Homo sapiens: one gene and its partner. The protein of the gene in region 2 interacts with the protein of the main gene of each other region in a pairwise test. Each region holds a gene or a part of one and is shown on either strand. Other genes may lie near its edges.

Evidence for each region.
Region 1: the proteins of PPFIA2 (region 2) and PPFIBP2 interact in a two-hybrid assay, tested with the Homo sapiens proteins (one study listed by BioGRID).

The regions. Positions count from the first base shown.
Region 1 is NC_000011.10:7,511,858-7,515,781, reverse strand, and holds the start of PPFIBP2 (liprin-beta-2), read right to left. Parts: upstream 1,742-3,924; 5' UTR 1,665-1,741; coding exon of another isoform or gene 1,177-1,664; intron 1-1,176. Other genes in the region: leucine-rich repeat extensin-like protein 5, read left to right, coding at 1,177-1,664, 1,742-2,572. UniProt on the Homo sapiens protein: May regulate the disassembly of focal adhesions. Did not bind receptor-like tyrosine phosphatases type 2A.
Region 2 is NC_000012.12:81,283,630-81,287,553, forward strand, and holds part of PPFIA2 (liprin-alpha-2), read right to left. Parts: intron 675-3,924; coding exon 612-674; intron 1-611. UniProt on the Homo sapiens protein: Alters PTPRF cellular localization and induces PTPRF clustering. May regulate the disassembly of focal adhesions.

The DNA of each region.
Region 1 (3,924 bases), on a different chromosome or scaffold from region 2:
AGTTCACAGAACCATCAGTCAGTCCCCTGCTGTGCCTTCAGACCAAGTCCAGACTTCTGTACTGGACAGCTGGGACTATTTTCCAGCCTTGTCACCAGCTTTCCTGACTAGCACTTGACATAAGAGCCAAGCTGGACCACTGGCCACTTCTCATGGTGAGTCCATGCCTGCCTGCCCACACAGTTGTCACAGCCCAGGCCACACTCTACCCTTCTCTGCCTCAAAAACCCCAGGAGGGATCCTTTGAGGTCCATCACATCACCCTTTCTTAAAATTATCCCAGATTTCCCTGCTCAGATGAAAGACAGGAATTCCCATAACTTTGTTCCTACCGCCTTCATGTCATTGATCTCATTCCACTTACTCTTTTAAAGTCAAAGCGCATCTCCCTTAGCTACCCAGTAAAGAAGGCATCATGGTAAGCAGCTTATCTCTCCAGTAGCAATAAGCTAACAACTGTCACATCACCAAATCTTAAAATAGTATTACTAATAATTGAAATATGTTAAATAAAACATGGATAAATGCAATCAGTGAAAACCTCATCAATCATCCCCATCTCCCACTTCAAATTTATTTAGCTATGAATTTAAGCAAAGTACAAATGGGTTGCCTCTCTTAAGCCAAAGAGAAATAATTTCTAAATTAGATAACACTTACAGCTTTCCATACACCTATAATAATGAAAGACTGAATATGCTGAAGATGAATTATGTCGAAAACCAACTACTTTTCTGTAGTTGACCATTTAACTTCACATAATACACTACAAATTTGAAAACACTTCAGATTTGTATTACAATCAATTAAGGAGGGGTTGAGAAAGGAGAGAGACGAAGAGAAAGACAGGAAGTAGACCAAAATATAGAAAAGGGACACGGATCTATACCAAATATCTGGCTGCTCTAAAAGTAAAAATATAATTAGATTCGTTTTTTAAGAAGATTAAACACTGGCAAGAATGCCTGTCTTAATCCTATCCAAACGCTGGAAGTTCTGTTCTCTTGTTACATAATCTTATTTTCATCCGAGGAAAAACTGCGGGTCTGGAATCTGATGTGATGAGGTGAGGAGGGAGCCCACTTTTAAATAGGACCGTCCCCATCCTGCAGTCTACTGGGACGCGGCGGCTTTAGATTTTAAAAAGTGTGCTGTATTTTTGCACTTACACTACAGAACTGGCTTTAGCCGAGGCCCTGCATCTAGACACACGCTGTGTCCACCAGAGAATTGCCTGGGCTGACAGACCTAAAGCTTCCGCAACCTCCTTAGGCTCCCTAGTCCACGCCGCTGCTCCCCGGGCTGAGCAGGGCTGGGACGCGCCGCACAGAACTCAGGGACCCCACCTCCCTGCGCATCTCCAGGGCCACGCTGGCACCTGCAGGAGTGCGGACTGTCCGCGGATCCCAGGCAGGGTTGGGTGGAGATTCGCAGCCAACCCACAGGAGTTCTGCCCTCCTCCCAGGCTTCTGGCCAGTGGAGTTGGAGAAGGGTCCCCGTCCTCGAGCCTGGGACACGCTCCGGGGCTCACAGAGACACTGACCCACACGTCCCCGTGGTTCGTAGCTCTGGGGGCGCTCCACTCCCTAGGTAATGCTCCCGACGGGGATCCCAACCCCGACCGCGCGGCAAGCCCGGGGTGTGGGGAGAGCCCACTGACCTGGGTACGGGGCCGAGGCTCCTCTCCGGGCGGCTCAGGTGTGCGGGCCGCTCCCGTGTCCCTCCCACCTTCAAACATGAGAGCCCAGAAGCGAGCGACGGGCCACTGGCCCACCGACCAACTGCCGGACCAAGCGCCCGACCAACCAGCGGACCGACCGCAGCGGCCGGGGCCGGCGCCCACGTGACGGGGCGGGGACCTGCGGAAGGCTCTTCCCGGAGCGCCGCGCCCCCACCCCGGGACCTGCCACAGGGACCACCCCCTTGGGCACCCGCTCCCTCTCGGGCACCGAAGAAGCCTGCTGGGACCCGTCCACCAGGGTTCCTGTTCCCGGGGGACCGGCCTGGTCAGCCCCGCCCCTTCGAACCTGCCTCGTCCCCACCCCCTGGGCCGCGCGTCCGGGCCCCAGCCCCGCCTCTCTCGGCGGACCGCGCCCCCTTCCGGGAGCCCCGCCCCGTTCGCCGCGCCTCCTCCTCCGCACAGCTCCGGTTGCGGGGAGGCCCGGGTGGGTACCCGGCGCTCCGGCTCCCAGTCTCCTGGGCTTCTCCAGTCCTTCAGCGCCGTTCTCCGGTCACAGGGAATGAAAGCGAGGAAGAAGGAAACGGTGTCGAGAATTGCGAAGAGAGAAAGCATAGAAAACCCACATTAGAGGCACTCCCAGAGCAGAAACCCTTCGGAGCATCCCGACTTCCTCGGCCCGCGTGCAATCCAGGCAAAATTGAGGTTGTCTCTGAGCCGCCCTCCCTAAGCAGGTCGGAAAGCCCCCGAATCATCCCAGGTCCCGCCGCGCTGCACTCGCAACCTGGGGTGGAGGTCCCTCTAGTGGTTGGCACCAAACAAAAGTTCTGTCTTATGAAGAGCCGAGGTCAGGAAGCATTTCCCTGTGCCCAGCGCCAAGGTCTGGGACCTTAGGTCCAAGAAAAGCGTTGGCAATGTCTGACCACAGGAATGGGTTCTCGAACTGGGGAGGACTGAAGCTGGAGATCTGGTCCAGCCCCTACCTCCAGCGTGTGGCCTGAACCCGTTTTGGTTGTACTGCTATGTTGTGGCCCTGCCCAGGCCTCCAAGGACTGGCTGCTGTTAAGCTGTTTAAAATCCCTGTAGGCCTCAGATGGCAGCGACACCAGGGACTCGGCATAGTCCCCAGCTCTGGCAGGAGTCACCACAGCCCTAGCCTTTAGTTCTCTACAGGCTGGAGTGTCGACAAACTCCACAGGACACAACTTTTTCAAACCAAATTTACCCTCGCGGTCTGAAATGACCAGTAGGCCCAGGAGAATTTTACATGTGAACAGAACCTAACCCACCCTGGCAAATATGAGACGTGTGGTCACTGCGGGAACCTGGCCAGCAGCAGACCAAAGCACAGCCAGCAGGGGAAGGCTGGGGCCCGCAAGAGTTGTGTTACAACAGGACACCCTTCAGTTCTCTTTCACTTCCTTAAAATAGCAGCAGAGCGACTTTTGTAGACGCAGGCTGCCACAGTTCACACAAGGTCATGGCTGTTTCCGAATCCCACCCTTTATTGCCCTAGCGGAGCCACTCCCCTTACCTCCGCCCCCAGAAACTGCTAGCCTGTTCTTAAATTGATACAGTTACCTTTTTAAATGTTCTAAGTCACCGGCTCTGGAGCTTCTTTGCACTTTGGAACCAACTTGCGGGAAGGAACTTTAAAAATACTGATATCTCGATCCATCCCCAGAGGTTCTGATTTAATGGTCTTGGGGATATGGCCACGGCATGAGGACTGTTAAAACTCCGCAGGTGATTCTTATGTGCAACAAAGTTTAAGAACCACTGATGTAGGCCATGTCGATGTCAGTCTTCACTTAAATCCAACAAGACCCCAGAGCTAAAACGTTCACCTGAAAGAAACCCCATTCCCAGGCCTGCATACTGACCTGCGCTGGCTCACAAGAAGCAAAGTGGTCCCTTAACAGGGGCTTCCTGGAGAAAATGTCTTGACCTAAAAGAGTGATTCGAGCTGCAGGGATTTAAGGTAGGTACCAAGGTGAGTTGTTTGGGGCAGATGTGCCCTGCAGAGCTGTCAATCAAATCATATCCCAGGTGGAATCTAGACAGCACATTTCAGGCAACCTCCCCTCTGTGCCTCCAAAGGAACTATGGTTGCAGGACTCACTCCTATTGATAAATCTACCCCACTATCCTCTGTGAGGCAGCCCACATTCCTTCTATCTGTGAAATAGGTAGGTAATAGGGCAGGTAATATCACATTTATTTATTCATACCTGTCTCATTCCACA
Region 2 (3,924 bases):
TTAAAAAGAAGTTGATAAAGATAAAATATATGATATGCCCAACTTTGTTACTTTACATGAAAAAATGATTTTTATAGCATTTTATTTTTAAAAGTGACAAAGAGTCCCCAAGAAATTCTTTAAAATTGTGCTTTTCAGTACCAAATTAACATAACACTTTTTTGGTTTTTTGGGGGTTTTTTTGGTCAAGCTTGTATCTAAGATGGTAAAGCACAAGAAACCACATGATCATATTAAAAATGAATATTCAATCTAATCTTTTCTATTACCAATTTAATTTGGTTTAGAAACATGTTACCTGTGAATATGTCCAATACTAAATATTTGTTACAAAAACTTCCAATGTTGCAACATGAATACTATTTATTACTTTCTTCCTTATTGTTTGTGTACTATAAGCTCTTATGATATTAGCCACAATCTAACACTATTTCATTAAAAAATTTCAAGAGAGTGCAGTAAAAGAAAACTGTAAAAAATGTTAGTTATCATTGCATGTAACTATAAAAACACACCCTATTACTCTGGTCTATTGTAAACAGATTAGTTTCCTCATCCAAAGAGCAGCAAAGTCACTTTCCTTCAGGTTCAACAAAGCCATTAAGACTAACCGTTTTTGCTGGAGCTGCAAGATTTTCCATTTCTTCATGAGTCACCCAAACGTTGCCTGAAGGCTAGTGAGGAGGCCCAGAGGGAAGCAGAGGAATCCATGGGAGGCAAGCAGTGGTAAAGAAGAAAGGCAGCACCTCTGTGAGTTAACAGCAACACAGCAATACCACAGTGCCCTTGCCCCTACCGTGTGCATGAAAGAGACAGCATGGCTGGTTTGCTCAGAGCTCCCTGTTTCTTCTACTCAAAAAGATTAACTAGAAAGAGGCATTCTGTGAAGCTCTTGGGGATGTAGATTTAAAATGACATTTCTGCAATTATTAATCAGAAAAAGAGCATCATCAAAATTTGCATTTCAATGGTATGTGGCTATCAGATCAATTTTTGTAATAACGGTGAACTGATTAAATTTGAACTGTAGAATAATGTAATTTTAATTTTTTACTCAGAAAACAATGGCACATGCACTTTGTTGTGTTATTATCAAAATTTCCTTCACATAATTTTGATTCTCGATATCCTTTGAAGGAAAAAAAATGGTTGTCAATATAAAGCGGGAAGCATTATCGTAACTTATCTGGAAACCAGCATCAGCTTTTCCCAAAAGATTCCTTTTACTGTGTGTGATTCAGTAAATAGTAAGTGTCCCTGAATTCTTGCAGCTGAGAAAGAAGTGAAATGCTATTTTTAATTTAATAAAATGTATTTTTTAGCCACACTAATAACTGTCAAATTATAAAATCCATATATTTCCTAATTCTCCACCAGTATCTGATACCATTATAGAGAAGAACATAGTGTAAAATAATTTTTTTTCTCTAGCAGGCAATATTCTATTATAAAGTCCCATTTGCTTTCTAAATAAAACACCCCTTGGTATTAGTTCTATACACTTAATAACGTACAGTTTCGAAACCAAAGTCCACTTAGTAACATACAGATCAGGCATATCATTGAAGGTATTGGCCCCTGGAAACCACTTGCCATCAAATTCCATCATTTCTTTATGAACATTGCAAGGTTTTCCAAGCACATCAATGAAATTTACATCCTATATATTATCTGCTACTTGTTTTGGGGAGGGTCCAATCTTTAAAGAATTGGTGTAGCAAAGTTGTTACCCAAACATTACAAGTCATCACCATAATTCACTTTGGGTTTTTCTGCCATTCACCTAGTACCATAACTTTTCCTGTATTAAAAACAAATGTAACTACATATAAATTGATGAGTATAATTTGATGTAAGTGAAATCTTATATATGTATATACATACATATATACAGTCATGCACTACATACCGACATTGTAGTCAAGAATGGGGTGCATGCACAACAAATGGTCTCATATGATTATAATGGAGCTGAAAAGTTCCTGTCACCTAGTGATATCAGAGCCATTATACCATCGTAGTGCAATGCATTATTCACATGTTTGTGGTAATGCTAGTGTAAACAAACCTATTGCACTGCCAGTCGTCTAAAAGTATAGCACGTGCAACTATGTGCAGCCCATAACCCTTGATAATCATCATTAATGACTGGGTTATTGGTTTATGTATTTACCACACCATGATTTTTAAATCATTATTTTACAGTGTACTCCCTCTACTTTTGTTTTTTAAAGAGTTAACTGTAAAATAGCCCCAAGTAGGTTCCTTGGGAGGCATCTCAAAAGAAGGCATTGATATCCTAGGAGATGACAGCTCCATGTGTGTTACTGCCCCAATGACTTTTCAGTGGAACAGAATATGGAGATGAAAGACAGTGATACTGATGGTCCCGATCCTGTGTAGGCCTATAGTGATTTTTGTGTTTGTGTCTTAGTTTGTAACGAAAAAGCTTAAAGAGGGGAAAAAATAATGAAATAGCAGAAAGCTTATAGGACAAGGATATAAAGAAAGATATTAATTTTGTTCAGCTGTACAATGTATTTGTGTTTTAAGCTAAGTATTATTTTAAAAAGAGTCAAAAGTTAACAAAAAAAAAGATTTATAAATTACAAATGTTACCATAAGCTAAGGCTAATTTATTACTGAGGAAATAAAAAGGTTTTTTTATGAATTGTGTGTAGTATAAAGTATAGTGTTTATAAAGTCTACAGTAGTATATAGTAATGTCCTAGGCCTTCGTATTCACTAAGTGCCCTATTCACGTGTACCATTTTTTATCTTTTATACTATATTTTTACTGTACCTTTTCTATGTTTAGACATATTTGGATACACAAATACTTACCACAGTGTTACATTTGCCTACAGTATTCAGCTTAGTATCATGCTGTGCAGGTTTGTACCCTGGAGCAATAAGTTATACCACATAGCCTAGGTGTGCAGTAGTCTATACCATTTAGGTTTATGTAAGTATGCTCTATGGTACTCTCAAAACGAAGAAATTGTTTCATGACTCATTTCTCAGAACATATATCTGCATTAAGTGATATTTGATTGTATATATACTTAAGTAACAAATGGAAATGGGTGGTAAAGATTCATAATTATAAGCAAATTCGAGGCACATAAAAATTCCACAGGCTAGACATCAAATATATGTATAGAATTTATTTTCTTCTACTGTTTTGGAATTTAGAGTACAGATGATGTTTTTTCTATAAGATAAATCTGTGTACACCTATTAAATAAATTTAGAATATAAAAGTCATTTATGTCCTTAAAAGTCCCTTCCTTGTATTCCCTGCTTCTAACAATGATGCTCATTATAAACAGAAAGTTGCATATGAGTATATAAATCATTACATTACTTGGAATAAATTGTTTTTATTGACTTTAGGAGGAGAGTGCTGTGCTGAAAAGTACTTTACATGCATCTGTCACATTCCCTTTACACTGAGTTATCGTGGTGCTTTCTTGAGTGGGTATACTGTTGGTTCAAAGTGAGTTTCAGCAATGATTACCTGAGAAGAAATTCATTTAAGCCAATCTTAAATGGCTTAAGCTTGCAGAACAGTGTAAAATCAATTTTACACTGATTTGTGTAGCTTCTGCTTTGAATCGTAATCCAAATAATGAAGATCTCATTACTTCTTTAAGAAACTACCTGTATTAATTATCTCATACTAGAATAGATACATGCATAGTATCTTTCACAGATTATCTTTAAGTCTGTGTCTGCCAGTCTGTCACCATATTCTGGGATGTGGAACATGCTGGAAGCTATGGTTTTATCTGTTTCATTCCTCACAAAATAAGCATATACCCAGGACAATTTTCTGAAGTATGACTGGCAAACTTTCAGAAGTTGTATGTTAGTTGTTTCTGTTTGATATGCAGTTTTACTTGTGAAGACCACTGCCAGCCC